4 linked regions of the Homo sapiens genome follow. The protein of the gene in region 3 purifies or fractionates together with the protein of the main gene of each other region. This does not show direct contact. Each region holds a gene or a part of one and is shown on either strand. Other genes may lie near its edges. The genes, in order: POTEE, GALC, CST7 and ITIH3.

Region 1 (7,439 bases), on a different chromosome or scaffold from region 3:
AATGTTGGAAAATTTTTTCAAATGGGCAGTATGAGTTTTAATAGCAATTTTTGTTGCATGTTGGAGGTTGAACTTTTGGTAAAACATGAAACTAAAGAAATATTTTACATGCAGATTCTTGCTTTATACACAATTTGTCTTAGGGTTGAGGATATAGAGACAAAAGATACAGCCCCTGCCCTCAAGAAGCTTTTTGTTTAGATGGGAAAAATATTATCATCCAATAACACCATGCCAAATGCTGGTTTAGAAGCAAAGAGCCTTGGAAGCAGTAAATGTTTAAAGTGAGTTTTTGAGATGATTAGAGTTACTGTGGTGAGGCAGAGAAGGGGTGTTTCCAAGGGAAGGAGCAGCGTGTGGGAAAGCACAGAAGAGTGAGAAGGAAGCGAGTACATTTTATTTACTTTCTATGCGTGTAAGTCCATAAGATCTTACATAAAGTTTCCACTTTGGTTGAGGAATATGTACTTTTTTGAATTACATAGGTTTTTGCTTTATATTGTTTTACAGCATGGCCTCACACCACTGTTACTTGGTGTACATGAGCAAAAACAGCAAGTCGTGAAATTTTTAATCAAGAAAAAAGCGAATTTAAATGCACTGGATAGATATGGAAGGTATAGTTCTTTCTTTTAATCTGTGTGTTCTAGATGGACAGCAGTCACTCAAGTCATAAATATTAAATTAATAAGATTAATGTATACTTACTGGGATGTAGTGATCAGTATCAACACAAATCAGTTAGGTAGAAAAACAATTACTTGGGCTGGGCAACATAAAGAACAGTTTTAGTAGGATTCATCTTCTCTTATTATATTGACTGATGTTATTTGTTATGTGACATTTTTGGTTACATGATCTTATGTTAGCTTAAAGGATTTCATATTAATTTTATGAAGTTTGAACTTTAACTTTTAGTTTACTTTATGACTCAGTATTGAACTTCTTAACCCTTTCTAATAGTTTTTAACCTGTGTCTTACATGCTTTTCCATTAAATCTGCTGTATTAAACATAAATAGGGGTTGAAAATCCTTTTGTCTTTTTAATGACTTTGCTTTAAGTTGCTTTCTTTGAAGAATATTAGTGTTAGCTTATCCCTACATGACAATTAATTGCTGTTCCCACATACTGTGGGTTCAACAGCTTTTTTCCTTTTGTTTTTCCAGTGTGTTTTGATGTTTTTATTTTTAATTGGTATGGAGAGAGGGAGTGAAGATAGTTTTAAGTGGATACACTTTTCCTTTAATGAAGACAAGCCGTACGTGGGTGATAAAGAGAAAAGAGCTAGGCTTTGGATTCACACAAGACTGGGTTTAATTAGTAACTTTCTTACTTGCTAGGTGTGTGACCTTGGGGACGTTATTTACCACCAAATATGTTGTCATATATGAAAAGTAGGAGAATATATCCTTCAAAGTTGGCTGTGCATAAGTAAGAAAGATACATGTGGCATTTAATTCAGTGCCTAGCACATGGTTATTGGCACCATTAACTGAAACTCCTATGACTACTATTCTTACCATTATTATTACTGCTTTGAGCATGCAGAGAGCTCTTATTTCTCTTACCCCCTAGCTGATTTTCTATTACAGCATGTCAGTCTAGGGAAGCTGTGACAAAATCTTCACTTAAATCTTTGTCCACCTCAGATAAGTGGCCCTAACATTGTTTCTTGCCCATCAAAGGACTTTAAATTAGTAGCTTCTGCTATGCAATACCCCACTGAGATAAGAGGGTTTTTTTTGGTCCCTTCCTTTTAACCTTGGTGGCATTTTACAAAGATGAACACTTGAGCACTCAAGATGCTTATGTCTTTTAGTGCATGTAAATGTTTGATTCTGCACAGACAGGCAAGATGTTACATTGGTAAAGTATATCAAATTAGCTTTAAAAATAACTTTATTACAGTTCCTATCTCTGTCATTTTAGGACTGCTCTCATACTTGCTGTATGTTGTGGATCAGCAAGTATAGTCAGCCTTCTACTTGAGCAAAATATTGATGTATCTTCTCAAGATCTATCTGGACAGACGGCCAGAGAGTATGCTGTTTCTAGTCATCATCATGTGTAAGTGTTTACATTAAAAGGCTAGTTAATGCTGAATTGAGGTTTAAAATAATTATAACAGTTGCATCTCACATATCAGGTGAGATGTCATAGTTTGGTTCAGGTAGTTTTCGCGTGGCAGTGAGTTAGTCCCCTGCATCAGCCAGAAATCAGACAAAAAGCAAGACAAGTTAGAAGTACCAATGGGTGCGGGATTCTTTATCTCAGGACTTTTAAGATCTTTATCCTTAGAGATCCCAGCATTGTTCATTTGATCCAAGTGTAACACCTATGCAGGGATAAAAAATAGTGTCACATCTTTAATTTTTCTGATTAGTTATTTGGGTCTTGAAATGTCTAGTTTAGCGGAAAGTCTTGTACTGTCTTCTGGGGACTATGTCCTACATACTCCTTGAATTTTTCAAGAACCGAAGGAGTTCACTAAATCCAAGGAAGACAGTCCCTTTTATCAAGTCAGAAGGAGGAGGAAAAAAGACATTGCAATCATTCTGTTGTTTCCGTTGATTTTGTTGCTGCTTTGTGGCCACTCAAACTGGTCCTGCTGCCTTAAGATGAATCAGTAGATTCAGATCCCTCAAGTCTTCATGGCGATTCATACAGTGACTTTGATGTTTTTTAATTCCCATACCTATGCTTATATGCTCAGCCATTGTTCCCAGAGCACCAGCCCCCTGCTCTGGCCGCTGGGCATCTTGACTTTATCCGCACACAAAGTGACCAAATTGACCCTTCCCCACATATTCAGAACCTAATGTGGAACCCACATCTTAGCCAGGAATTAGCTGAGACCTTCATGGTAAGAGATCCTTTGAGGCTGTTGTTGGTCTTTTCTCTGGCAGATGTTAGGTGGGCTTGTTCTAAAGGGTGAGAGGGGTTCAAATAATGTGGCAGAAAGAGGTCAGTGTTTGTTTCCTCTTTGCTACCAGATCTGTACTGTGAGGCACCTTTATATCCTGTATAGAACCCAGTAGAAAGTCCCATATGAACCTTGCCCTGAGCAGTGGCTCCCAGCTGTGGTTGGCCCCTTGAGTGATCTGATTTACATGATAATGAAAATTGTCGGAGCTACTTCCATCTCTAGCTCAAGATTTTAAGATATTTTCAAACTCTAGCTCACAGGAAGCCATTGAAGAGAATTCTCAGAATCTCAAGTAGGTTAGTTGGACTTCACAGAGCCAAGCCTTGTCCATGACGCATCACTAATCATGTGTAAAAGTAGGGCTTTGTGCTTGCTTCGGCGGCACATATCCTAAAATTGGAACAATACGGGGAAAGTTAGCATGGCTTCTGCATAAGGAGGCAGCACAGATCTTTGAAGCATTCCATATTTTGTGCAGTCACTGGAAGGTCATTTGACTATTTGCTGACTAGCTCTGAGGAAATAGTGTGAATCAAAGCAAAATGGGTGCCACCCAAATATTGAAATTGTGATTTGTGCTGCAAAAATAGTCATGTAAGATGGTCTATGAGATGACTTAGACCTGAATAACATGTTCGGTGCAAAATATATTGTTAGTATGTATGTCGAAAATTACAGAATGTCAGCTTGCTACTTCTCTGTGGAAACTAAAAAAAAATAAAAGTAGACTTTTGGTCTCCCATGTCAGCTGGAATTGAACATCAATATAAAGCATTATCCTAACAGACATCTACTGGCTGAGAGTTTGAGTCTGTAGAGAAGGATCGTTGGTCCAAGTCAGGTCTTAACATCCATTGGTTTTTCTGCCCTTGGTGTGATTGATCAACTCCGTAATAGTGGACAATCACATTATCTACTTTAATGAGATATTTATGAATAAATTTAGTTACAAACTATGACATAGTTGAGATGCCCTGAATTATAAGCCATAAAGAGTAGGACAACTAAGAAGCAAAATTAGGACTTAATAACATTTTCTGAAAACTACAACATTTGTATATTAGAACCTATGAACAAAATATGCATTGGGTTTTATTTGGGATTCCAAGATAATTTTAGTCATAAAGTTTAGGAACAGATTATTCCATTGCTTTACTATTTCTCTGAGCATTTAAAAAATGTTATCTCGTTAAACCTTTATAACAACCTAGTGAAATAAGGCAGCAAAGTCCTCACTTTGTTGAAGAAGACATTGAGCCTAAGAGAAGCAAGTTGTCCAAGAACAAATAGCTGTTCATTATGGAGCTAGGACTTATTTAGAGTTGGGACACTTTCTATTATGTCATGCTAATGCTAGCTAATTTACTGGGTCACAGTGCCCTCGATTTATGACTATTTCACCTTACATTTTTTTCTTCTTTAATTAGAAGCTTAAAGAGAAGTTTGTAGAATGTATTCATAAGTGGATGGGATAATACTATTAAGTTCTGTTATTCTGATATTGTTTGAAATACTCTTAATAATTCTACATTTGGTAAGTTTTTTTTATATCAGTATTAAAATAGTAATTTGGTTTATTACATTTTTATACATAGAATTTGCCAGTTACTTTCTGACTACAAAGAAAAACAGATGCTAAAAATCTCTTCTGAAAACAGCAATCCAGGTAAGACTTGTGATAGTGAATTACTTTAGTCAGTTGTCCCCAACCTTTTTGACACCAGGGACCGGTTTTGTGGAAGACAATTTTTCCATGGGCTGGGGGAGGGTGGGGATGGTTTCAGGATTATTCAATCATGTTACATTTATTGTGCTACTTTATATTATTATCACATTGTAATATATAATGAAATAATTATACAACTTACCATAATGTAGAATCCGTGGAAGCTCTGAACTTATTTTTCTGCAACTGGATGGTCTCATCTGGGGGCAAAGTGAGACAGTGACAGATCATCAGGCATTAGATTCTCATACGAAGCACACAACCTAGATCCCTCAGATGGGCAGTTCACAACAGGGTTCATGCTCCAATGAGTATCTAGTGCTATCACTGATCTGACTGGAGGCAGAGTACAGGCGGTAATATGAGCCATAAGGAGTGGCTGTAAATACAGATGAAGCTTCCCTGGCTTGCCTGCTGCTCACCTCCTCCTGTGTGGTGTGGTTCATAATAGTCCATGGACTGGTATGAGTCTGTGGCCTGGGAGTTGAGGACCCCTGCTTTGCGTGGTCCTACCATAGATAAAAAAGTAAAAGTAAGGAATTTTTGATCACAAAAGAACACTGAAGCACAAGTCATGTTACATATGCTTGTCCCAATAAGGTCTCACTATTACTGACTTCATTCCTCCTCATTTGAAGTTGGAAAGAGATATATTTACTTTGTTGGAACAAGATGTGTTCTTCTACCTGCTGGTTAATTGTCATCATAACAGTAATTTTGTTAGAACAAGATGCTCTGCTACCATTTGCCAAAAGATTGTCATAATAAATATACAAATTGCCCAACTCTAGGCTCAGCAGATTATAATAAAAGCAGAAAAACGTTTCACACTAACAAAAACGCTAGTATGCTACCTGGTTGTGGACACCTAATACATTTATAGTCCAAACTGTATGAGGACACCTTTAATTTAGCCATCTATTTATCAAAGAGCTTTTGTAAGTTAGGTTTTATAAGTTGCAGGAGACAAAGATGGAATAGATGTAGTTTTGATCTTTAAGGTGCTCATAATAGAGCTGTCTCCATTTCATTTCTGTGGTTTTTCAACAGAATTTACAAAGAAAACATTTCTATTTATGTTTTCACTTGTCCACTTAACATATAACTATCAAATGTCTTTTAGATAGTAACCATTTTTCTAATGCTATAGACCACAAACAATTAAAAATACAGACAGGAGCTTTTTGTTATCATTGTCATTTTCATTATTTTACTACTTTATTCAGTGCTTACTGTGTGCTAGATGCCCACTGGAAGCTTATAATTATGATTTATTATATATTGATTATGTGCCAGACATATGTGATGAGGAATGAAAGTTTTGGGAAAAAGTAGGTATGATTTAAGGTAAGCATGCAGAGAGAGAAGAATTTTTCTAGGTAAAGAAGCAGAAGAAGAATGTTTGGCAGAAGGAACATGCAGCGAGGTCGTGTGTTTGCCAGAAGGAACATCTAATGAGATTGCCTGTTTGGGAGGAAGAGCAGCAAGTGCAAAAGACAAGATGCTTGAGTGAACATGGCAGGGTTTCTGAGCAGTTCACTTTTGCTAGTACCAAAAGTGTGTGATACGAGAGGTTGGGAATGAGGTGAATACTTAGCTAAGGCAAGTTTATGATAGACTTTTTAATACTATAGAAATGAGTAGGTCTTATCCTGTGTGCCATGGGAAATTTACCGGGTAGAATGCTTTGGACTGCAAATACTAGATGAACAGTGGCTAAAACAGTAGGAACCAGAGTTGTTTTGGTTGTTCATTGATATCCTAGGATCCCACTTTTCCCTCTTTCAGCTGTGCTGTTGACAGTGTTTTATTCACGTCTCCCTTCATGGTTGGCTAATCCGCAGCAGCTCCAAACATCTTGTTCTCACAACACAACATCGCAAGGGCTGCTTTTCTTCACATGTGTCTTTTAAACAGGGAGAAAACTTAGAAGCATGCAAAGGGCTTCCTGTAACATTTCACTGGCTGGGTCACACCACATGCTCATTCCCAAACCAGGCACTGGGAAGGTAAATACCTGATTAGCTTAGAATAATCATTTCTGTTTCTGAGGCTGAGGAGGGGGATTGGGATAATAAATATCCCAATAGACTTGGATTTCTTCTTCAAGAAAGAATAAGGAATGGCTATTGATAGGGAGCCAACAATGTGTGCTGCAGGGGCTCATTGGAGAAATTTGAGCAGGGGAGTCATAAGATTAAATCTGAGTATTAAGGCATTCTGGTTATGGTGTAAAACGGGTTAGCAAGCTTTTTCTGTAAATGGCCAGTTGGGCAATATTTTAGACTATGTGGTCTCTGTCATATCTACTTAACCCTGCTGTTGTCTGCTGTTGTAGTGTGAAAGCCACCATGATTATATGTAAGCAAACAGGCATGACTGAGCTCCTATAAAACTTTATTTACAAAACCATAATGCAGATTGGATTTGGCCTGTGGCCTATAGTTTGCTGGGATTGATGGAAGGTTCTTTACCCTGTAAAGAAACCAGGAGACAAAGGAAGTTTTCGCAGTAGTCAGTTATAGTTTCCTTGTCATACATCCTTGGAGTAGCATCAATGTATTACAAGGTTTTCACCCGTCCTTAGTGAAATACATAAAGTTAGGAATCTCAACTACTTGTTTTAATATGTTGGCCTTTTTTTTTTGGTGTTATGCTTTTTTCATTTGTTTTGCTTAATTTTTTTCATGTAAGAAATAACATTAATAGTTGGCAGGCTTTTTTTTAAATAAAAGCCATTTTGTAAATGTTTGTGTTCCCAGTGGCAGTGGGAATATAAAGCAGA
Region 2 (7,439 bases), on a different chromosome or scaffold from region 3:
CAAGAGACGATTCTAGAATCCAGGTGCAGGTCTTTTTACTCCAATGATACAGGAAAGAGTTTATCAATGAACCTCCTCATCATAGCATTTGTTATCATGAGTCTAAACAAGATGTGAATCACCCATTACTTGTGACTGTACCATAAGAGAAAGCTATTAGACCAAACCTACATTTAGTCTCACTACAGGTTATAAATGTCCTGACATTTAAGAAAGTTCTCCGGCCAGGCGTGGTGGCTCATTCCTGTAATCCCAGCACTTTGGGAGGCCGAGGCGGGCGGATCACGAGGTCAGGAGTTTGAGACCAGCCTGGCCAACATAGTGAAACCCCGTCTCTAATAAAAAGAAAAAAAAACTAGCTGGGTGTGGTGGCGGGTGCCTGTAATCCCAGCTACTTGAGGCAGGAGAATCACTTGAACCCAGGAGGCAGAGGTTGCAGTGAGCCAAGATCACAACACTGCACTCCAATCCGGGTGACAGTGTAAAAAAAAAAGGAAAGTTCTCAAATATAAACTAATTTTTCAGTCATAATTTGGAAAAGGATAGCAAAAACTAGTATATTCTTTCTTCTGACTTCCTCCAGCCCTTGGCTCATCCTCATGCCCTGTATCATCATGTAGTATTACAGTTTATATGTTCCAGCATCTACTTCTCTTACTGAACACAAGAGCTTATTAATCTTAGTAGCCCTCAAATATTACAGTCACAGTTCCTGCAACACAGTAGGAACTCAATAATTGTTTGCTGATAATCTAAGTCATGATTGCATGAAAATGTTTAAGTATTAGTTTTAACTGATGGTATATTAATAAGCAAATGATTATGGAGACCCACTATGTGTGTGTTAAGGCCCTGTGGGGTACGATGCAGCCTGGGGCATGCCTCCACCCAGCCAAGAGACAAGCTGGACATGATATCATTTTTCATACTTTTCAAATCCTTAAAAGGTGTTAACTAACAGTTTGTGACAGGTGAACGCAGATTTCAGCCAGCCTGCCAAATCTGGCCCATCATCTGTAATTTTACAACTTGAGAGCTAAAAGTGTTTTTAGTTTTAAATAGTTACATTTTAAATGGCTATATATTTACCTCAAGATCCTCAATATTGCCTTTTGGCCCACAAACCCAAAACTATTTATGCTCTGGCCCTTTAATAAAAAGTTTGCCAATCTTTGGCTTAAGACAACAAGAGGATAAAATGAGACTAACCCCCCATAAGCTGTATAGGAAACACAACACTGTTGTAGGAACCAGAGAAAGCAGGGAAAGCTTTGAAGGAGAATTTGAGTTGGGTTGATACAAAAAAAAAAAAAAAAAACCCAGCTCAGAGGAAGGAGGTATACACTCAACACAGTTTTCAAAAGTGGGAACACTGGGATGGGCAAAGGGGAGCAATTAAAGGTCACAGGTACTTAGTTTGTGTTATTATCAGACACCATTAGAACAAATTAGCCTCATGGCATAAAATGGTTAGTCAAAAAGTACCACAGAATCAAATTATTTTCTAAATTACAAACAAATGTCCAAAACTGAATCATATTTTAAATATATTACTAACTCCAATATAATCAATGTCCAAATCATGGTAACGCTTGGCGCCCACAATCCAGGTCACGACATAATAGGCAGTCAGCTGAAGATTGACATAAGGCCAGTCGAAACCTTTTCCCAGCCATCCAGGGAATGACCATGGCAACCCTGCAGAGAGAAGGGAGGAGGCAAAGGTAGAGGAGGTATAACGGTGCTGGCGCTATTGAAAATAAAACAAATTTTTTTTAAGAAAAGCATTCAACTAGCAAAAAACCAATACAGATCTGACTAAAGGAAAGTTTATATACCATATAAAAATTATTGAAATCCTTTCCAATCTATAGACACTATAATTCCTTATTGATCCCTAGAGTCAGGTCCCATAATTTCAAATGTTCTTTCCAAGAAGAAGAAAAATAACAAATACAAACACCTCTCTCCAAGACCCTTACCAATAGAAAGAAATGTACCATATGTTTTAACTTAACATGTCCACTCACTGTTGGAATGTTCAATATTCAACTTCTGTTCTTTGAGGTCAAATCAAAGAATTCTAAAAGGCTTATGCCAAACTACTCTTGAGTTATGTATAACACAAATTTATCATTCAATTGTACATCTTCTTACAATTTAGGGTCCTTAAAATATTAATCAGTCAGGCAATCTAATTTAGCAAAACTAGTTTGTTCTTATATCACTATAAATGACAATGACTCCATAGAGAAATATACCCTTGTTAAGTGATACACATCAAATAAGTCCATATTCTTCCAATAATCCTGATTATGTTTAAGTAAAAAAATAAGAAGAGTAGAAAAGTACTTATTATAATTCTAAATTTAACTTGCTACTAATATATTAAAATAGGCTCAATAGTTAAGTTCCTCAGCAATAAATATATTACCAAACTAGTTCACCACTGAAAAAAATAAAAATCAAAATGACAAAATGCTTATTTTCTAAACTCAGGAGGAACACCCAAGTGTATTACATAAGAAATGTGACATTAAAGTAATAGAATTCTTGAAAACAATGAAATGCTAAATGCAATCTGAAGGCCTACCAAGTCTTTGTTAGGACATGGTTTAGCATGCCATATTTTCTACATTTAAATGAGGTCTGACCTTGGAAGCAGTCTAGTGGATATGTGCTGAATTCAGTGATGCTTTTACTGCTCACAGCATTTCTGGAATCTCTTACAAAAGCCCATTTATAAAGAACATACTTACTCCTAATTTCTTTTAACTTAGAAAATATTACTTTTCATTAACCTGATTGTTGAGAAAATTATTTTTTAAATAACTAGAAATCAGGTCTTTAAAATGAATCATTAATTTCATTTAACTTAGTTTGAATTTAAGCCTGTTTCAAAAAATCAAATTCATTTCAAATGATGAAAGTATCCCATCACTCTTGATGTTTGAAATACTTCACAAGCTCTGTACACATTCTCACAGAACTGTGAAATGTACATAGTCCCATTTAAGCAACTAGCCAATGATCCTCCCAATAGAACCTAAGCCCCACAGGTGCAGGAATTGGGGACGGGATTGGCTTCCTGAGTCCCAGAACAGTAACCAGCACATTATTGAAGTTCAAAAACTAACTAATAAACAAAAAACACTTTTGTATGTACCTTTTCTAAAAATAGGGTTCACTACTACATGCAATATACAATTTTGTAACTAGTTAGGTGTACTACTGCATGTAATATACATTTTTGTGAACAGTGTTACCCTTTTATAAATACTGATGACAGATCTTGTGAAGGAAAGTAGTTTAGCATCATAGGAAACATGGAATTAGGTGCTAACACCGATTTTGCCATTTACTAACTGTCTATGACCTTAGGTCAGTGGCATAATCTTCCTAAGCTTCTACTGCTTCTTCCTGGAAAATGGAAAGAGTCATGCCTTACTCCACAGGTATTATAAGGATTCAACATAATATACAAGGGCAAAGAAAGGATCACCCCTGGCACATGCTTTGCTGCTGGTAGCATACTGGTAGCATTAATGACATTATGAGTACTTCCGTATTAATAGAGATTCCACCAACACGATTCAGAATTTAAAAGTTAAAGGAAAAGAGACTGAAGAAACATTGCAAACTTCATTTCTTACCAATGAGTGTAATATTGGGATTCCTCTTCTTAGCTTCTTTCATCAACCACCACTCGTATCCTCGGAAATAATTCTCATCTAGTGCATAATGCATGTGGGAGGGCTCAGTGCCGTCTGAATAGAGGAGAGCAAAAACGGAAGTAATGATCCATGAATGGTACTTCCTAGGACCATCTCACTCCCCACCCCCACCCCAGACACACACTTCACAAAAGCAGTATTCCAGTTCTAATCCTGAAGTTGGGGAAATCATAATCTTACACAACTAAAGGATGGATGATAAAAGCATATCATTTCATCCTTTTTTTATTATCTTAAGCATTGTAAAAGTCTTAATAAAACCACAACCTTCTATTACAAGCAGTACTGAGAGAAATGTTATCACCTCATATAACTAAAAATTCCCAGTATTCATGCTTCTGGGCTTTTGATCTCTCTGTAGTTTTCAAATCCCCATGTCCAACTTTAAGTTCTGATTACCTCAACTTTCAGCTTTTCAACGCTGGATATGAATCCCTGGACTCGTGAGCCCTGTTCTCAGAACCCACACCTTTAGCCTATAATATGTCTTGATATAGGAAGAGTTTTGAGGAAAAAAAAAGGAATGAGTATACATATCCACTCTAAAAATAACAAAATTCTATACTAACATCTGCAGTTAGTAGAGGTTACATTGTCTTAGCACTGAGGTAGGTAATTGCTATCAAAGTCCTCGTATATTCCCACAGTTCACCAACATCTGCCCTTGCTAAGTAGGGCCTTCCGAGAGGCCCTTGCCCATTTCTTCTTAAAGGTAAACATCAGAATTCACAAGAACTGCCTGTTTATGTACCTCTACCTCTAATTTAGCTTCAGCAAGTGAAATTAGTCCATCATTGTCAATTCTGCCTAAAAGGTTTTAACAGTAAAACGCAATAGCTTGAAGAAAGTTTCTGTTATGGGGGTTTCTTTTGTTTTTGCTTTGCACTTTTTCTTCAACATAAACACTAATACCACCACATAGACATATCTGTTCAACAAAGAGTTACTTCCAAATCACTAGCAGGAATACAAGTAATACTCTAGAGTTCATTATAATGGAATCTGTTCTGTAAATAATAAGCTATATCTAATCATAGAGAGAATTTCTTTTCTTCTTCCTGGAAACAAAAGGCCTATAAACTGCCAGTTGATAACATGGACTACATAAAGCCAATCAAAATAGTGACAATGAAGACTGAAGATTTAGTGATTAAAGATAAGTTTTGTTTTTAAAAGAAAAAAAAGCTGTATCATTTTTACCACATATTTTAAGTTAATAACACTTTTTTTGTTCTATACGAAATTAAAATCTTTCTAACTGCTCAATAAAATTCAAAACTGTCCCTATGCTCTGTCCTGTATATATAGGTTTTAGAAAACTGTGGATTTGTTTACTACCGATTACTTCAACTAAATAAGCAATTTGAAGTTTGAATATTGTTTTTGATGGACCAGTCATATTCTATATAATATTTTTAAATAATTACAGTTAAAAAATGAGGAAAACTCTAATAAGCAACAATCAATCTCAAAAGTGTTGGTATTGTTTACACATATTCTGAAATCACAGTCCATATGCTGAGGTATAGATTAAAATGTTGATGGGAGAAATCCTATCTCCCAAATTCTCCTACCTGTTGTCTGCCCATCACCACCTATTTCCACTTTTAAAATATGCAAAGAGGCACCAAAATTCGGCTGTGAAAAGAAGTAACAGTATTAACATAGTGTTGTATTGTATGAAGCTTCAAGACAATTACTAATTACTGCCTTAGGTTTTACAGACGCAAAAACAAAAGCAAAACTTCAAATAGCAATTTATTCCAAAAGTAATGTGCCATTTTTTCAAAAACTAGAATTGTGAGGCTAATAAATTCTATGGTGAAATTCACCATCCAATTTCTAAAATATCACAGGTACCATGAAATAATTATGTTTTCATTACCTTAAAGAGATAATCCAATATCTGAGAACGATAGGGCTCTGGGTAATTTACTAGAAGTCGGGAGGTTGCCTAAAAAAAAAAGTTTTCAAAAGTATGAATAAAAGAAATCCAGTCATGAATATCTGTCTACAGTGTTCACGCACACCACCTGGTATACACATATTTAGCCTCAGGCAAGGTCAGGCTGAGGAAAAGTTCCTCACAAGTTGTCTGTCTGCCCTTTCTGTGCCAATCATTGGGCAAGTAGGGCTGCTGTCTGTCCGACAGCTAAAAAAGTTCTCTTCTTCTGGCATGAGGGCTAACTGGGAGGTAAGCTTGCTAACCTCATGATCACAAACTTATCTTGAAACTCAGGTTTTCTATCTTGAGACCACTTGACAACAATATCTCAGGACTAAAATGGGAGGGATGAATGTCAGGTAATTTTTCCCCTTAACATCTTCCGGAAAAACATCACAAGCAGCAATGCTGAAAGGAAGCACTACTTTCCCCATCCTCATAAATTCTACCTGTTACTATTAAGAATAACTAGCAATAATCTCCAGACCAGGCTGTACTAAGAAAACTTAACACAAGAGTGGCATCAGAATGCATGGAAAGACAAGGGTAGACAGCGCAGGGACCAATACTGGATCATGCCTGGACCACGGCATACAACTATTTGAAAAAAGAAATCACAAAACCAGTAACTGACCCATAATCTATCCTTTGGGAGGCAATATAAGCAAAAAATAAATAAAAAGAGGCCGGTTTTTGGCATGAAACAGTAGCCTCAGGCTTGTAAACCAGACAGTCCTAGGTTCAAACTGCTGACACTTTGCCAGGTGTATGTATGATGGTTGGGACAAAATACTTTTATGGGGTTCAACTTTCTATTTTATATTCTCATATATGCTACCACTGACATTCTGGTAAGTGCCCATATCTACTCTGTCACACCCAAAACATCCCCAGTCCCTACCAGTGAGGCAAACACCCATGGAGCTGCTCTCTAGCCACTCTTTCCATCTACCTCAATATATCCCAAACCAAACATAGCACTTTTGCATGTATCTGCTCCTTTTCCTGAACTTGCTGTCTCAGTAACCAACACTTGCCGAAACCATAAACTTGGGCCACCTTTTGTCCAAACTTCCCATGTACCCTCAGTCACCAAGATATCCTCAATAGCTCTCAAATCCCTCCTCTACTCTTCAACCCCACTGACTTACCCAGGCCCTCCTCACTTATGAGAACAGTATAAGTGGTCTCAGGACATCCCTTCTGCCTCTCCCTGTATTCTATCTTCCATGCTACTTACGAGAGTAACCTTCCCAAAATACAAATGTAATCACGAAACTCTTCCATGTAAACATGCTAAGACCGTCCCTTTCCCAAAAGCTTTCAGGATAAAGTTCAAATCGCTCAATTTTGCACCCAAATCCCTTAATTATTTGGCTCCTAACCCTGATACTTTATCCCTTATCACTCTCACACCTTCTACCTAGATGTATCAAACAACGTTTTCTATTCTTATGCCTGGAATGCACCCCACATCCTCTCTTGGACAACTCCAATTCACCTTTCAGCTCAAATTCCACCTCTGGAATTTGAAGGAAGGATGCCTTCTGGCCCTGCTCACTGATTTGATGTAAGCGCCTCTCCTTTGGCACCAGGTCCATATCTTTATTACAACACTTTGAACCCCGGCACTCCTTTATTTTTCTGACTCACCTCTTAGTTCCTTAAGGACATGGACTGTATCTTATTCAAGTTTGTATCCTCATTCTTTGTTATTCAATAAACACTTATTAAATATTTTATGGGTCTTTTGTTGCACT
Region 3 (8,174 bases):
TCTTGGGTCTCTGCCTGATGGCTAATGGCGGAGTCTATCTTTTGAGGGCACACACATGCCCCTGGCACAGACAGGACACTGAGCTCTACCAGATCAGTCCCGACCTTAACCCACTGGGACACACCCGGAGTTTGAATTCCAGCTCTGCTTCTCACTGGCTGTATGATCTCAGGCAAGCTGCCTAACCTCTCTGAGCCTCCGTGTCCTCACCTGTAAAATGAGGATGCTGACGACAGTGAGAATATATGAGGCAACATACACGAAGCACTTGTCAATAAATGATGTGCAAAACTGTAATCATTATCAATATATCAAAATGCACATGGCCACAGCAGGGGTCTCAGGGCAAATGAATGCCCCCATTGGGAAAAACAAATCTTGCCACGTAGACGGTGGCTCAGCCTGCGGCAGCTCCCAGTGCTCCCCAGGAGGCAGGAGGTCCCCGGGCTGCAAGTGGTCTCTCTGCTACTGGGAAGTAAGGACTGACATCACCTTGCAGAGGGAAGCTGAAATGGCTCCCTGACCCCAGGGCCCCTGTCCAGGCAGATGGGCCGTTGCAGCTAGAGTGGAGGGGGCAGAGGATGACATGGCACCTGGCAGAGCTTCCCAGAAGAGATGCCCATCAGATTGAGAAAGAAACAGCCCTTTTCAAAAGGGTGGCGGAAGCCAGTGTGGCAATTTCCTAGGTTCTGAAAGCCTCAGGGAGGAGAGGTGCCCTGAGGGGCTCAGCGCTATGGTCTGTGCAGTTCAGTGCATGGGTGTGGAGAGAGGCCAGATGCTCAGACGGCACCACCCTTGGGGTCCCTGTTGCTTCCCCGCCCCCTACCCCCCTCAGTCATGAGGAAGGCTCTGTAATTTATTCTCAGAGGAGGCAGCGGAGGGGCTGTAGGAGTTGTGGAGTGGGGGCAGGACGCATGCTTGTGTCTGGGGCCCAGGTTCCCATCTCTTTTTTGCTGCTAGACTGGGGGCCTCCCAGCACCCTCCCTATACAGCCGAAGACTGAAGGCCCTTGCTGGAAGCACCAGAAATGATCACAGCGCCTGGGCAGGGTGCTGGGGGCTGTCACCAGCACAGTGGCAGAAGGGCCTGCACTAGACAGAGCAGGGGGCTGAGGCTGGCGGAGAGCACCCCATGCCCCATGTGCCTCCATGCCTGTGCCTTCCCCGAGCCACCTCTGTTCAGCCTCCCCAGGGCCGGAGACGGGGTGCAGTTATCTTCCCATTTCATGGATGGTAGGACTGAGGCTGAGGGCCCGCTCTGTGTGTGTGAACGTGGGCTCTGGAGCTTCTCTCTGGGGTTTGGTGGCTGACAGCAGGTCTGCTGAGAATGGAGGGAAAGGCTTGGTGCAGCATTACATACCAGCGAGGGGCCGGGAACACCACCCAGGAAAATGACGTTGCCAGCTGCCCAGCACATCGGCTCCCACGCCACCCTGTTATAGTCCCTAGCCTGCTCCGTGAGATGAGCAGAGCTCTGAAACCCCTCAGCAGTCAGTAGGTTTAATTAGATCCCAGGACACGCTAGGACAGCTGGCTCCATGTCCCCTCCAGGAGAGCCTTTTCTGAGGTGTGAGAACGAGCCACTTCTCTGGAGTGAACTTGCCTCTCTTCCCTGCTTCCCCCTTGGACCTTGGAGACACGAAGGGGCAGGGCACAGAATGGCAGCAGGCAGGCAGCACTGCATCAGGACAGGGCCAGGAGGAGAGGCCCCTGTGAGGCTGGGAAGCAGGTGGAGGGCTCCTTGCGTGAGCTAAGAAGGCTCCCAAGCTGGGAGGCAGGGCCGGGTATGCTGTCCCCAGCCTTCTGCCAGCCATGGGTCAGCTCCATGTTCGCTGAGCACTACCCAGAGCTGGTGGCGGTGGCATGTTCCCATCAGTGAGAGCAGAAGCTGCCCCCGGCCCCTCCTCCAGCCTGCCGTGTCCCCTTGGCTGCTCAGTCGCAGCGTCCGCCCTAGGCCAGGCCTGGGAGCTCGACACAGTGTCCCCCAGCATCACTGAGTCCTCAGTATCCTGACTCACCAGGAGGAGGTGAGAACCCTCCAAGAACCCCTTGGGTGCTCTGGAGCCATCCTCTTGTCAGTGGTCCTGCTGCACAGCCCCCACCTGGGCCCCTTTGGCCAGGCTCCAGCCCCCTTCTGTCCCTGTCTGCTGGGTGGGGGTCATATGACTTGAGCGGGTCACCTCAGCCCTCTGGTGCCAGCTTCCTGGTTGGTTAAATGAGGTGGGGGCCTCCCAAGTCCCCATCAGTATCCTGGTCTGATTCCTGTGCCAGGGAGGCCATGGCCCAGTTCCCTTTGGGGGAGAGCAGGTTGTCCCTGGCTGTGTGACTTGGGCAAATCACCTAGCCTGGCTGTGTCTCAGTTTCCCAGTGCACAGGCAGTGGCTCTTTCCTCCCTGTCCCCCCTCCCCCTGAGTGCTGACCCTCAGGGAGTGGATTTCAGGAAGGGTGAAAGAGTCTGATCGTTAGGGTCCCTGGAGCCAAGTCACAGGACAACAGCCAGCAGGAAGGAATGACAAGCCATCAGATAGAAGCGGCTAACCACAGGCATGTGGCTGCCCTGTCGCCTCCGTCCCGCAGAGGAGCTGCGGGAGACCTGCCTTACTTAGACCTTTCTCAGACCTCTGTGAAGAGCCAGAGAATAGAAGATGCTTCCCTTGCCCCTAGCCTTCTGGGGCAGCCCCCAAACCCTTCATCCCTGTAGCCTGCTACCCCCAAAGGTAGCTGCAGCCAGATGGAGCCCCTTGCCCCTCTCACCACTCCCAGCACCTCTCACCACCGCATGGTCCTGTGGGGGCTCCAAGCTAGGAAAGTGCCCTGGGGAAGACCCAAGGCACCAGTGGCCAATCTCAGGGAGAGACCCCCGGGGAGCGGACAGGGGAGAACGCCACTTACCTGGGGAAGGGCCCCCAGTGGTGCTCAAGACCAGGCAGCAGAAGGCCAGCAGAGTTCCAGCCGCTCGCATGGCTGCCCGGGTAGGGACAGTGCGGGGCAGTTGGGGGTGGCCGTGCAGTGCCTTCTCAGGCAGCATGGGGCAGTTGGAGGCAGTGGTTGGTGCCCGTGCCGAGCCTTCTTGGGTAGATGGCGCAGGGCAGGTGGGGGCAGTGGTCTGTGCCCGTGCCAATCCTTCTCAGGCAGCACGGGCCAGTGCCGGGCAATGGTTTGTGCCTGTGCTGAGCCTTCTTGGGCAGCATGGAACAGTGGGCTGTCCCAGCCCAGGGGCAGGTGCCAGGGCCACAGCATGGAACCCCACCCTGCAAACCACTGTGGGATGGGGCAGGGGCGGGGCTAGGGGGCTGCCTGCGTGGTGCTGGGGAGGGGAGTGTTTTGCTGCTGAATCATTTTGGCCAGAAGCTCTTCACCTTCAGATCTATCAGCCACAAAGCAACCGCTTCCTTTATAAAAGTTTCCGAGCAGCCGTCATTTGCTGGGGGAGGAGGAAGAGACATGAGACCCATGAGCAAATCCTGATGCAATGTTCTACCCCTGAGCCACACACGAAAGAGATGTTGCATGAAAAACATTAGCAGGAATTTTCAAAAGCAAAATCACTTGATTTTCCTTTTTCTTTTAATTACTTAAGTTCTGGGGTACATGTGCAGAACATGCAGGTTTGTTACATAGGTATACACGTGCCATGGTGGTTTGCTGCACCCATCAACCCATCATCTACATTAGGTATTTCTCCAAATGCTATCCCTCCCCTGGCCCCGGATCCCCAGATAGTCCTTGGTGTGTGATGTTCCCCTCCCTGTGTCCATGTGTTCTCATTGTTCAACTCCCACCTATGAATGAGAACATGCGGTGTTTGGTTTTCTGTTCTTGTGTTAGTTTGCTGAGAATGATGGTTTCCAGCTTCATCCATGTCCCTGCAAAGGACATGAACTCATCTTTTTTATGGCTGCATAGTATTCCATGGTGTATATGTGCCACATTTTCTTTATCCAGTCTACCATTGATGGGCATTTGGGTTGGTTCCAAGTCTTTGCTATTGTGACTAGTGCTGCAGTAAACATACGTGTGCATGTGTCTTTATAGTAGAATGATTTTTGAGTATATACCCAGTAATGAAATTGCTGGGTCAAATGGTATTTCTGGTTCTAGATCCTTGAGGAATCACCACACTGTCTTCCACAATGGTTGAACTAATTTACACTCCCACCAACAGTGTAAAAGCGTTCCTATTTCTCCACATCCTCTCCAGCATCTGTTGCTTCCTGACTTTTTAACGATCACCATTCTAACTGGCATGAGATGGTACCTCATTGTGGTTTTGATTTGCATTTCTCTAATGACCAGTGATGATGAGCGTTTTTTCATATGTTTCTTGGCTGCATAAATGTCTTCTTTTTAGTGTCTGTTCATATCCTTCACCCAATTTTTGATGGGGTTGTTTTTTTCTTGTCAATTGTTTAAGTTCCTTGTAGATTCTCGACATTAGCTCTTTGTCAAATGGATATATTGCAAAAATTTTCTCCCATTCTGTAGGTTGCCTGTTCACTCTGATGACAGTTTCTTTTGCTGTGTGGAAGTTCATTAGTTTAATTAGGTCCCATTTATCAATTTTGGCTTTTGTTGCTATTCCTTTTGGTGTTTTAGTCATGAAGTCTTTGCCCATGCCTATGTCCTGAATGGTACTGCCTAGGTTTTCTTCTAGGGTTTTTATGGTTTTAGGTCTTAAGTCCTTAATCCATGTTGAGTTAATTTTTGTATAAGGTGTAAGGAAGGGGTCCAGTTTCAGTTTTCTGCAAATGGCTAGCCAGTTTTCCCAACACCATTTATTAAATAGGGAATCCTTTCCCCATTGGTTGTTTTAGTCAGGTTTGTCAAAGATCAGGTGGTTGTTGATGTGTGGTGTTATTTCTGGGCTTCTGTTCTGTTCCATTGGTCTATATATCTGTTTTGGTACCAGTACCATGCTGTTTTGGTTACTGTAGGCTTGTAGTATGGTTTGAAGTCAGATAGCATGATGCCTCCAGCTTTGTTCTTTTTGCTTAGGATTGTCTTGGCTATGCAGGCTCTTTTTTGGTTCCCTATGAACTTTAAAGTAGTTTTTTCCAATTCTGTGAAGAAAGTCAATGATAGCTTGATGGGGGATATCACTGAATCTATAAATTACTTTGGGCAGTATGGCCATTTTCACAACATTGATTCTTCCTATCCATGAGCATGGAATGTTTTTCCATTTATTTGTATCCTCTCTTATTTCCTTGAACAGTGGTTTGTAGTTCTCCTTGAAGAGGTCCTTCACATCCCTTGTAAGTTGTATTCCTAGGTATTTTATTCTCTTTGTAGCAATTGTGAATGGGAGTTCACTTATAATTTCACTCTCTGTTTGTCTATTATTGGTGTATAGGAATGTTTGTGATTTTTGCACATTGATTTTGTATCCTGAGACTTTGCTGAAGTTGCTTATCAGCTTGTGGAGATTTTGGGCTGAGATGATGGGGTTTTCTAAATATACAGTCATGTCATCTGCAAACAGAGACAATTTGACTCCCTCTTTTCCTATTTGAATACTCTTTATTTCCTTCTCCTGCCTAATTGCCCTGGCCAGAACTTCCAACACTATGTTGAATAGGAGTGGTGAGAGAGGGCATCCTAGTCTTGTGCCAGTTTTCAAAGGGAATGCTTCAAGTTTTTGTCCATTCAGTATGATATTGGCTGTGGGTTTGTCATAAATAGCTCTTATTATTTTAAGATACAGTTCATCAAAACCTACTTTATTCAGAGTTTTTAGCATGAAGGGGTGTTGAATTTTGTTGAAGGCCTTTTCTGCATCTATTAAGATAATCATGTGGTTTTTCTCATTGGTTCTGTTTATATGCTGGATTACGTTTATTGATTTGCATATGTTGAACCAGCCTTGCATTCCAGGTATGAAGCTGACTTGATCATGGTGGATAAGTTTTGATGTGCTGCTGGATTCAGTTTGCCATATTTTATTGAGGATTTTCACATTGATGGGACATCAGGGATATTGGCCTGAAATTTTCTTTTTGTTGTGTTTCTGCCAGGTTTTGGTATTAGGATGATGCTGGCCTCATAAAATGAGTTAGGGAGGATTCCCTCTTTTTCTCTTGTTTGGAATAGTTTCAGAAGGAATGGTAGCAGCGCCTCTTTGTACCTCTGGTAGAATTCAGCTGTGAATCCATCTGGTCCTGGACTTTTTTTTGGTTGGTAGGCTATTAATTACTGCCTCAATTTCAGAACTTGTTATTGATCGATTCAGGGATTCGACTTCTTCCTGGTTTAGACTTGGGAGGGTGTGTGTGTCCAGGAATTTACCCATTTCTTCTAGATTTTCTAGTTTATTAGTTTAGAGGCATTTACAGTATTCTCTGATGGTAGTTTGTATTTCTATGGGATCACTGGTGATATCCCCTTTATCATTTTTTATTGCATCTATTTGATTCTTCTCTCTTTTCTTCTTTATTAGTCTTGCTAGTGGTCTATCTATTTTGTTGATCTCTTCAAAACACCAGCTCCTTGATTCATTGATTTTTTGAAAGGTTTTTCATGTCTCTATCACTTTCAGTTCTGCTCTGATCTTAGTTATTTCTTGTCTTCTGCTAGCTTTTGAATTTGTTTGCTCATGCTTCTTTAGTTCTTTTACTTGTGATGTTAGGGTGTCAATTTTAGATCTTTCCTGCTTTCTCTTGTGGGCATTTAGTGCTATAAATTTCCCTCTACACACTGCTATAAATGTGTCCTAGAGATTCTGGTACATTGTGTCTTTGTTCTGATTGGTTTCAGAGAACATCTTTATTTCTGCCTTAATTTCATTATGTACGCAGTAGTCATTCAGGAGCAGGTTGTTCAGTTTCCATGTAGTTGTTCAGGTTTGAGTGAGTTTCTTAATCCTGAGTTCTAATTTGATTGCACTGTGGTCTGAGAGACTGTTTGTTATGACTTCCATTCTTTAGTATTTGCTGAGGAGTGTTTTACTTCCAATTATGTGGTCAATTTTAGAATAAGTGCAATGAGATGCTGAGAAGAATGTATATTCTGTTGATTTGGGGTGGAGAGTTCTGTAGATGTCTATTAGGTCTGCATGGTCCAGAGCTTAGTTCAAATCCTGAATATCCTTATTAATTTTCTGTCTCATTGTTATAATATTGACAGGGTGTTAAAATCTCCCATTATTATTGTGTGGGAGTGTAGGTCTCTTTGTAGGTCTCTAAGAACTTGCTTTATGAATGTAGGTGCTTCTGTATTGGGTGCATGTATATTTAGGATAGTTAGTTCTTCTTGTTGAATTAATACCTTTACCATTATGTAATACCCTTCTTTGTCGTTTTTGATCTTTGTTGGTTTGAAGTCTGTTTTATCAGAGACTAGGATTGCAACCCTTGCTTTGTTTTTGGTTTCCATTTGCTTGGTAAATATTCCTCCATGTATTTATTTTGAGCCTATTTGTGTCTTCGCATGTGAGATGGGTCTCCTGAACACAGCACACCAATGAGTCTTGACTCCATTCAATTTGCCAGTCTGTGTCTTTTAATTGGGGCATTTAGCCCATTTACATTTATGGTTAATATTATTATTATGATTTTGATCTTGTCATTATGATGCTAGCTGGTTATTTTGCCCATGAGTTGATGCAGTTTCTTCATCGTGTCAATGGTCTTTACAATTTGATATGTTTTTGCAGTGGCTGGTACCAGCTGTTCCTTTCCATGTTTAGTGCTTCCTTCAGGAGCTCTTGTAAGGCAGGCCTGGTGGTGACAAAATCTCCCAGCATTTGCTTGTCTGTAAAGGATTTTATTTCTCCTTCACTTATGAAGCTTAGTTTGGCTGGATATGCAATTCTGGGTTGAAAATTCTTTTCTTTAAGAATGTTGAATATTGGCCCCCACTGTCTTCTGGCTTGTAGGGTTTCTGCAGAGAGATCTGCTGTTAGTCTGATGGGTTTTCCTTTGTGGGTAACCCAACCTTTCTCTCTGGCTGCCCTTAACATTTTTCCTTCATTTCAAGCTTGGTGAATCTGATGATTATGTGTCTTGGGGCTGCTGTTCTCAAGGAGTATCTTTGTGGTGTTGTCTATATTTCCTGAATTTGAATGTTGGCCTGTCTTGCTAGGTTGGGGCAGTTATCCTGGATAATATCCTGAAGAGTGTTTTCCAGCTTGGTTCCATTCTCCCTGTCACTTTCAGGTACACCAATCAAATGTAGATT
Region 4 (7,732 bases), on a different chromosome or scaffold from region 3:
ATCCAGCATGCTGATTCCCTGAGGCTCGAAGATGTCTACCTCGATCTGAAATGGCCAAAGTAAGGAAATGTCACTCAGTGACCTCAGAGGCCAGTTCCCAGAACAAGGCCAATGGGAATGAGATGGGTCTGTGGTGATGCAGGGACCCTCTAGGACAGTGCTGAGGGCCAAGCCTGGTGTCTCCCACTGCGAAAGTGACCACAGGGGCTTGGAGGAGAGTATGCTGATCGGGAGGTGTTACCACCGCCTGCCATATGCGCCCGAAATTCCACCACTGATGCTTTTCCTTTGGCTTTCAGCTTTGAGGTAGGAAAAATGCCCATGTGCCCAGTGAGAAGCCTTACAGAGGCACTTGCTGGTGTTGCTCTTGAGGGCCCAGCACCGAATCTGCATCTGTGGAGTCCATCCCAGCCTCTTCCCCTTGGCCCCAGATGCTTTTGGCCAGAACCATTGAATTCCTCCAGCCTTCCCAGCCAAGGATGGGGGATGCCGTGAGGCAGAACTTTTGTTTTTGACCCCTGTCTGAGACTGCCCCATGGGCGGGTTCCTGCACCCCGCTGCCGTCCCCCCAGGTCTGCAGGGGCGGTTGATTACCTCAAAGTGTTTGACCAGTTGCTTAGGCTGGACCTTGAGGTACATCTCGTACTTGCCCTTGTGCCTCTTCAGCAGCTCCTCGTAGGTTAGCTCGAAGGTGACTTTGCTGCCTGCAGCCACGTTGACCGAGACTGTGAACTTCTCCAACTTCCTCCCAGAGGCCCTGACCAGGGTGCGAGATGGTGACTCCCTCAAAGACTGCAGGAGCCCACCCTTCCTCGGCCCTCGGCCCCAGGCCCAGCCCTTTGGCGAGGGAGATCCCTAACCATTCTGAGCCTCACTTGCCTCAGCCTCAACGTGGGATAATGGCAAAATTATGGGCACATTTTGCTATACCAATAATAATAGCTGTTGTTGTTGTTTGTAGCCCTGAAGGCCCTTGGATCCCAGACATTCTCCCCAAGGCCTGGGAGTCCATACTTACTTGACCAAGCCGGCCGTCTTGCCCTGGGACACAGCCTTTTCATACTGCTTCTTGGCAACTTCCTTCTCCTTGACATTCCCAGGGTAGGTAACACCGTCGATGGTCCTGCAGGGAAAGAGAGTTGGGGGTAGGGAGATCACACTGGGCCAGACCCCCTGTTCCCGAGCCCAGAGCCAGCAGCCATGGTGGTACCCACAAGGTGAAGTTGGTGATGAAGGCCGTCTTGGGCAGCTCCACATCAAAGGAAACCTCCTTGGCCGTGTCTGCACGGTTGACGGCTCTCATGGTGACAACATTGTGAGCAAAACGGGAGGTCACCTTGGAGTTGATTTTGGTACTGTAGACCTCGATGCCATTGGCCACCTTTGGGGAGGTGGGTGGAGAATCAGCCAGACTGGGACACTGGAGAAGCAGGTTTGCAACCCAGCCACCTCCCTTGCAAACCCTTGGAGGCTCTGAGGCCCCTGCCCGGCACGCAACCCTCATCCTCCAGGTCTTCTACACTGGAAGACTTGGTGGCGTCTCCAGTCTCCATGTTCTGGTGGCCACCATTATTCAGATGCTTGTCCTGCCTCCTTAATTCTGCGATCCGTTTACACACCACTGCAGCCAGTGAGAGCTTGCCCTTTCCCGTCCAGTCACCCTGAGCTCCAGCTATGCGTGGGACACTGGCTCTGGAGCATCTGCCCCTGGCTCTTCCTGCTCATCCTCCACACCTCACACTCCCTCAAGCACACAGCCCAGCCCACCTCCTGGGTCTTTAGGTAATTGCCTCATTCTGTCTCCCAAAGAGGAACTGATTTCCTGTGCCAAGGGAAGTCTCCAAACACCCTCTTTCCAATAGGGGTGTTGAATTTTGAGAGGCTCTAGGGAGGTGTTCCAGCCCCCTCCCCCTAGGGATATAAAGATGCTTCGTGAGGGTGTGGCAGGGACCGCTTCACAGAGCCAGGTACCAGCAAGTGCTAAGGAAGTGTCTGCGGAAGGAAGGGATGCCTGTGAGGGGCCCTCTTGGGCTACATCCTGCGAGGTTGGAGGGGTCGTCACTCTGTGGTGCTCTTTCCCAGGAGTCCTGCGCTGTTGGAGGCTGCCAGGGCAGAGGGCCGTAAGCTGTTTGCCAGCTGTGAGGAGTCAGCTGTTATAGCCTACACCTTCAGCAGTTGGGGAACCAGCTCCATCCTGCCCTGCCCCACTCGGTCCCACCCCCTGGTGAAAGTTCTTACCCCTTCCGGGAGGCTCCGTTTCTGAAAAAACAAAAACAAACACAAACACAGGAATCAGGCCAAGGCCAACACCAAGGCCGCATGGCCTGGGAGGCTCTGGGCTGAGACCAGGGGTTCAGTGGTGCCCTGCCCCCCACACACCTGAGTGGCCCCCAGACATAGGACCCTCCAGAGCCACATGTCAGAGTAGGAAAAACTCTGAATAGATGGGGAAACTGAGGTCCAGAGAGGGGCAGGTATCCAGGTTACCAGGAGAGCAGGGCAGGGGGAACTGAACCCAGAGCTCTCTTCACACCCTACATGCCCCACCTCATTCTATCTCCCATTCTGCCTTTCCCTGGCCCCCAGGCCCCTTTAGGCCTCCTTCCAGAGCACCCCTGCCCCCGCCACACCCCGCAGGGCTCAACTGAGCATTTTGTAGAGGTCACACTCGTTTGAGACTTGAACCTTCATTGCCCCTCAGTGAAGTGAGCAGTTCCTGGTGCATTGCTCTTTTGACAGGTGGGGAAGCTGAGGCCCAGGGAGTTTTAAGAGCCTTCCCAGGGTTAGACAACAGGTTAGCATAGGCCTCAGCTGGAGCCCGGTTCTCCCAGTGTCCACACTACTCCCAGCAGCTCAGTGCCCAGCCCTCTGCCTCCTCTTCACTCCACTCAGAGGCCTTGCCCAGCATGATGCCTTCTGCCCATTCCACACCAAGACCCAGATGGCAAAGAGGGGGCAGACTCACCCCAAGCAGCCGAAAGGGGCTTCTCGGGAAGCCAGAGGCTGCCAAGCTGGAGAGCAGAGCCAAGATGAGACAGGGCCACCATGCAAATGCCATCGCTGAATACTCAGGCCTGGCCCACGCTCCTTATATGAGCAAGCCTGGTGTTTTCCAAGCAGGGTCAGTGACCTGCAGCGGGGGTGGGAGGAGTGGAGGCAGGAAGGGCCTCCGGGAAGCTGGGCATGGGTGGAATGACGGGTCCCTCGATGTGTCTGTCTGAAGAAGGCCTGGTGGGTCTTGCCAACAGCGTTGGGGCTTCATTCCTGAGAGACCGGGGGACTCGGAAGAGGCCCGCAGGAAAGCAGAAGCTGTGGGCCAACAAATGGACCCTGGGACTCCCTGGCGTGGATGATGGAGATGGGGTGTGGAGTTGCATTTAGGGCAAAGGGCATCTCAGCATTGTTGCCTCTTATCCCTACCACTGGGACAGCCTCTCTCTGGCCTCCTGGATTGCAGCCCCTCCCTTCTTGAGGCAGCCAGGGCGTGAAACTAGACTGTCACCTTCAGGCTGGGACCTCCACAGCAGAGCCCCTCGCTCACTACCCTTCTATGGCCCCCAAAGCCCCAGGGAAAGGACACACAACGATCCCGGAAGCCCAGCTGTCTCTGTGATCTGACCCCAGCTTGTTTTTCTGAGCTCACTCTCTTGCACCAGCACACCCTCCCCTTCTGCACATGTCACATCTTTCATCTCTCTGCCAGTCCCAGTGCCTCCCCTCCAGGACCCTTCCCTGGCCATCCCCTAGAGGACTATGGGACATCCCTGCTCCAAGCCCCAAGCCCCCTGAGGGCCTGCTTTGTCATGACCTTATGTTGAGGTGGATGTGCTCAGGTCTGCCTGCCCCCTCTGCACCCAGAGCTCCTGGGGGCTGGACCATGTCATGTTTCCCTCTGTGCTTCCAGGGCCCAGCCAGGGACTTGGCTGCCCTCAGCCTTTTGGGGAGTCATTGCCCTAAAAGTCGTAGTGAGGCTGGGCTCCAGCTTCCAGGACAACAGGAGCTTTAGAGGCAGGACCTGGTCTCAGTGGGGGCTGGGACCTCCTGAGCCACCTCAGGACCCTGCCAGCCTAGCCCCATCAGGGCAGCTGTTGCACACCCACCATACCCATGGCTTCTCTGAGCCAAGCTGACCCTGTGACCCTCCCACTGGGCAGCCCACTACTGAATGGAGTCGACAAGGACGGCTGGGTCCAGGACAACTAACTTATGGGGAGTTCAGCGGCCTCAGCTGAAAGCTCTGGTGCTGACTGGGAGATGTGCAGAGAGAGTTGTTGGGAGCAGAGGAACCAAGAAGGCAAAAGGCAGATGCCACGGGGCAGCGGAAGCCCTGAGGAGGGTGTGGTCTAATGGCTGGAAGAGGCAGCAGCCACAGAGCAATGATGGAGAGTTGCCAAATCAGCCAGGCACTATGGCTCTTGCCTGTAATCCCAGCTTTTTGGGAGACTGAAGCTGGAGGATCACCTGGGCCCAGGAGTTCGAGGCTGCAGTGAGCGCTGTGTTCGTGCCACTGCGCTCCAGCCCGGATGACAGGGCGAGACCCCCGTCTCAAAAAAAAAAAAAAAAATTGAAAAGAGGGAGTTTCCAAGCCAGTGAAATGATGGCCAAGTGGCAGATGCTGCCTGTGCTTGGTGTCTGGCTGGGCGGTGCCTGTTTCCCTCGGGCCTCCTGAACCCTTACACCAACCTCACTGGCAGCAGGCACCAAGCTCGGGCCTGATGGAGGCCAAACCCAGCAGGTGCTGGCGCCTGGGTGTGGAGAGAAGACCCCTCAGAGCTGCCGTGTCCTCATTTCCTGGCTTCTGGGATGTTTTCAGTCCTGTGGCTGCTGGCACTGGGTGGCTGGCACTGTTGCCCAATGGCTCCTCCTCACGGACCTGCAGCTGCCTGCAGAGCTTCTCCTGTACTCTCTCATCTGGACCACTGCCTCATCCCCAAGTGCCTGGAGTTTGGGGAGACGGACAACTCGAAATAGGGATTCTGTAGCTGCTCAAGCAGCCTCAAGGGATGGCTGGGGACTTGGAGGAACCAGAGTCGTCATGCAGACTTTATAATTAGACGGAATCTAAGAGATCTTTGGGTTCACCGCCTTTCCATTCTACAGGAGAGGGAGATGAGGCCCCCATTGGGCAGGCCTTGCCAAGGGTGACCCCGACAGCTGGCAGCTCACAGCTCTTCCTGGAGAACCCCAGGATACCTGGGAAGGTGGGCTGGCCGCCCCACAGCCTGCCGCTAGGGGCTCTGTGTTCATAGGGCCTGGGGCAGCCTTTGAGCTCAGCATTGGTGTTATTGATCCAGGCCCTCAAAACCAGTCCTTGTTCTGTCTGGTCCCTTGTGAGCCTCATTTATAGTGGAAACTGGACAGAAACTAGCAAGAAAAAGCAGAAAGCCTCTGGAAAGCAGTGGGTGGAGGCCTGTGCGCATTCACACACAGAGCTCTCTGACGTGTGGCTCACCTCCCTGCACCTGTGACATTGTGTTTTGACTGGGCCCCAAGGTCAAGCCAAGGGAGGGGACCCTGATGGGGTAATTCCAGGCATTCACATGAGGAGATGGTAGGGTGCCACTCCTGGCCCCCTGAAATCACAGCTTCTGGGCAGGGACCATCTCTGCCTTTGGAAAATACCAGCCTGGCTGCCAGACGTTACAAACCCTCAGCAGGGAAATGGTGTGAGCTTTCTTCCCAGCCTCTGACCTGCTTCTCCTCTCCCTGGGTCTGTTGTAACCCCTTAGTCCATCTGAGGGGCAGCATCTTGGGCTGCCTCCCTGCCATCCTCCCTCCCCAAAATCAGCCAGCTCAGGGTGGACACGGCCTCTCTTTAATGGAAGGCATGAGGTGCTTTGACACAAGGAACCAGCTTAGTCAAGGAGGTACAGCCTCAGCAGCAGGTCAGGATGTCGTCCTCCTCCTCTGCCTTGGCCCCGGGGGAGGACAGGCGTGCTGGCCAGAGGGCTCAGAAGATGTCGGGGACGATATAATCAGTGTAGGCACCATCGATGAGTCCAGCCCCATTGTTGTGAATGAACCAGCAGGACACCTCGGCCCCATGCCACGGGTCCTTGCTGTAGTCTTTTTGCAAACCCCTGTGCAGAGACAAGTCAGCTGGGGTCACCCTTCGGACCAGTAGGGCAGCACCTCCCCAGGAAGCTCACCCCACCCATGTGACACCTGGAGGAAGACCTGGAAGAACTACAAAGTGGCCGAGGGCAGACGTGCTGGGCAAGCAGCCCACCCACCTGGTGACCGTGAGCCGGCGGTTCCTCACCACCATCGTGGCATCTGGCTTTGTGGGGTCAGAGCCTGGGTGGATGTCAGACACTTCAAAACCGATGGGGTGGAAAAATTGCCCTAGAAAGGCACATTGGAGACAGCGGTTACCATCTCGGGGACTTGCTCCTGCCCTGCACTCAGCAGGTGCTCACTGCGGGGTTAGAGCATTGCTGGACCGCTTTTTTTCCAGGGCTTGACTGTTTCTGCTAACAGTCCCAGCATGAAAAGCTACCTTTGGTTCACTTGCTATAGAGAAGTAGATACATTTCTAGGTGGTCCTACCTCCTGTCTTTTAAAACGGGATCTGTCTGGGGAGAGAGGTTTGAGGGCAGGTGCCCATAGAGAGCAGTGTCTGTAGAAAGGCCACACAGGAGCAGTGTGGTCAGTGACCCACCCTACTCACAAGGTTCCTGGGAACCCTCTGGGCCTTTCTTTTTGCGATCAGACCTCTGCCCCTCACTTGCTCCCAGGCTCGCTTAAGCGTTTGTTTCACTGTGTGTTTGCTCACAGCCTCACCAACACAGCCCCTCAGACGGCTCTGCTCCTTGGAGGCCACACTGGAGGTGGGCCTGTCCTGGTGCCCAGCTATAGAACTGACCGGTGGCCCCAGGTCCCACATGTCCTCTGGCTTCAACACCCTTCCCCACAGCCCTGCCAGCCTGGCCAGCCGTACCCAGCAGCCCGTGCGTCCGGGCTGACATCCGATGACTGTCCAGCACATAGAAGCCCAGGAAGTCCTGGTGGACCGAGCTCCCCTTCCACACTCGGTGCAAAACAACCTCAAAGGTGCCACCGTCGTCCACAGACACCACCAGGTTCCTCTTCTTGTTGATGGTCACCACCACCCTGCAGAGCCAGGTGGCCGAGAGGGCAGGTGCGGCTGCACTGCATCCCTCTCCATTCAGCTGCCCTTGTCATCTGGGACCCAACCCTTATGACCACGCCCCCACCCCATGGCCTTCATCCCCAGATGGCCGGCTGTTACCTGTTCCACGCCCCTCCCCACATGTTGCTTGGGGCCCTTGCAATGTGCCAGGTCCTGTGCTAAGCCCTCTGTGCAAACTGCATCATTCAATCCTCACTCCGAGCCTGTGAAGTCCCAGGCTCAGAGAGGTTAAGTAACTTGCCCAAGGTAGCACAGCTGGTAAGCAGTGGAGCCAGGACTTGGACTTCAGGCTGTCTAATATCAGAGTCCGTGTTCTGTGACTCCCACTCATCACCTGTGACCTCCACAGCAGACTCTCCCCACCTCTTCCTATAGCTCTGCTGCCCAGCATTGCTCTGGTGCTTGGCACAGTTTGTTGAATGAATGAATGAATGAATGAACGAATTAGTAAAGGAAGGAAAAGTCATGAGACAATGCAGACTAAGACATGCCAAATGAGAAGCCCAGAGAAATCTGGAGTTCAGCAGAGGAAGAGAGCAGGAGGGCTGAGGGGAAGAGGTGGCCTCTTTGCTGGGCCTG

The links.
Region 1: the proteins of CST7 (region 3) and POTEE purify together in Homo sapiens (affinity purification with mass spectrometry; 2 studies listed by BioGRID and IntAct, with this or other methods). This does not show direct contact.
Region 2: the proteins of CST7 (region 3) and GALC purify together in Homo sapiens (affinity purification with mass spectrometry; 2 studies listed by BioGRID and IntAct, with this or other methods). This does not show direct contact.
Region 4: the proteins of CST7 (region 3) and ITIH3 purify together in Homo sapiens (affinity purification with mass spectrometry; 2 studies listed by BioGRID and IntAct, with this or other methods). This does not show direct contact.

The regions. Positions count from the first base shown.
Region 1 is NC_000002.12:131,226,313-131,233,751, forward strand, and holds part of POTEE (POTE ankyrin domain family member E), read left to right. Parts: intron 1-510; coding exon 511-617; intron 618-1,931; coding exon 1,932-2,069; intron 2,070-4,523; coding exon 4,524-4,594; intron 4,595-7,439.
Region 2 is NC_000014.9:87,982,836-87,990,274, forward strand, and holds part of GALC (galactocerebrosidase isoform a precursor), read right to left. Parts: intron 5,689-7,439; coding exon 5,620-5,688; intron 5,373-5,619; coding exon 5,309-5,372; intron 4,238-5,308; exon of another isoform or gene 4,134-4,237; intron 3,768-4,133; coding exon 3,654-3,767; intron 1,699-3,653; coding exon 1,559-1,698; intron 1-1,558. UniProt on the Homo sapiens protein: Hydrolyzes the galactose ester bonds of glycolipids such as galactosylceramide and galactosylsphingosine.
Region 3 is NC_000020.11:24,944,293-24,952,466, reverse strand, and holds the start of CST7 (cystatin-F precursor), read right to left. Parts: upstream 3,199-8,174; 5' UTR 2,962-3,198; coding exon 2,892-2,961; intron 1-2,891. UniProt on the Homo sapiens protein: Inhibits papain and cathepsin L but with affinities lower than other cystatins. May play a role in immune regulation through inhibition of a unique target in the hematopoietic system.
Region 4 is NC_000003.12:52,790,130-52,797,861, reverse strand, and holds the start of ITIH3 (inter-alpha-trypsin inhibitor heavy chain H3 isoform 4 preproprotein), read right to left. Parts: upstream 3,067-7,732; 5' UTR 3,059-3,066; coding exon 2,966-3,058; intron 2,260-2,965; coding exon 2,239-2,259; intron 1,382-2,238; coding exon 1,215-1,381; intron 1,124-1,214; coding exon 1,019-1,123; intron 758-1,018; coding exon 595-757; intron 46-594; coding exon 1-45. Other genes in the region: ITIH1 (inter-alpha-trypsin inhibitor heavy chain H1 isoform a preproprotein), read right to left, coding at 5,951-6,080, 6,234-6,345, 6,941-7,113. UniProt on the Homo sapiens protein: May act as a carrier of hyaluronan in serum or as a binding protein between hyaluronan and other matrix protein, including those on cell surfaces in tissues to regulate the localization, synthesis and degradation of hyaluronan which are essential to cells undergoing biological processes.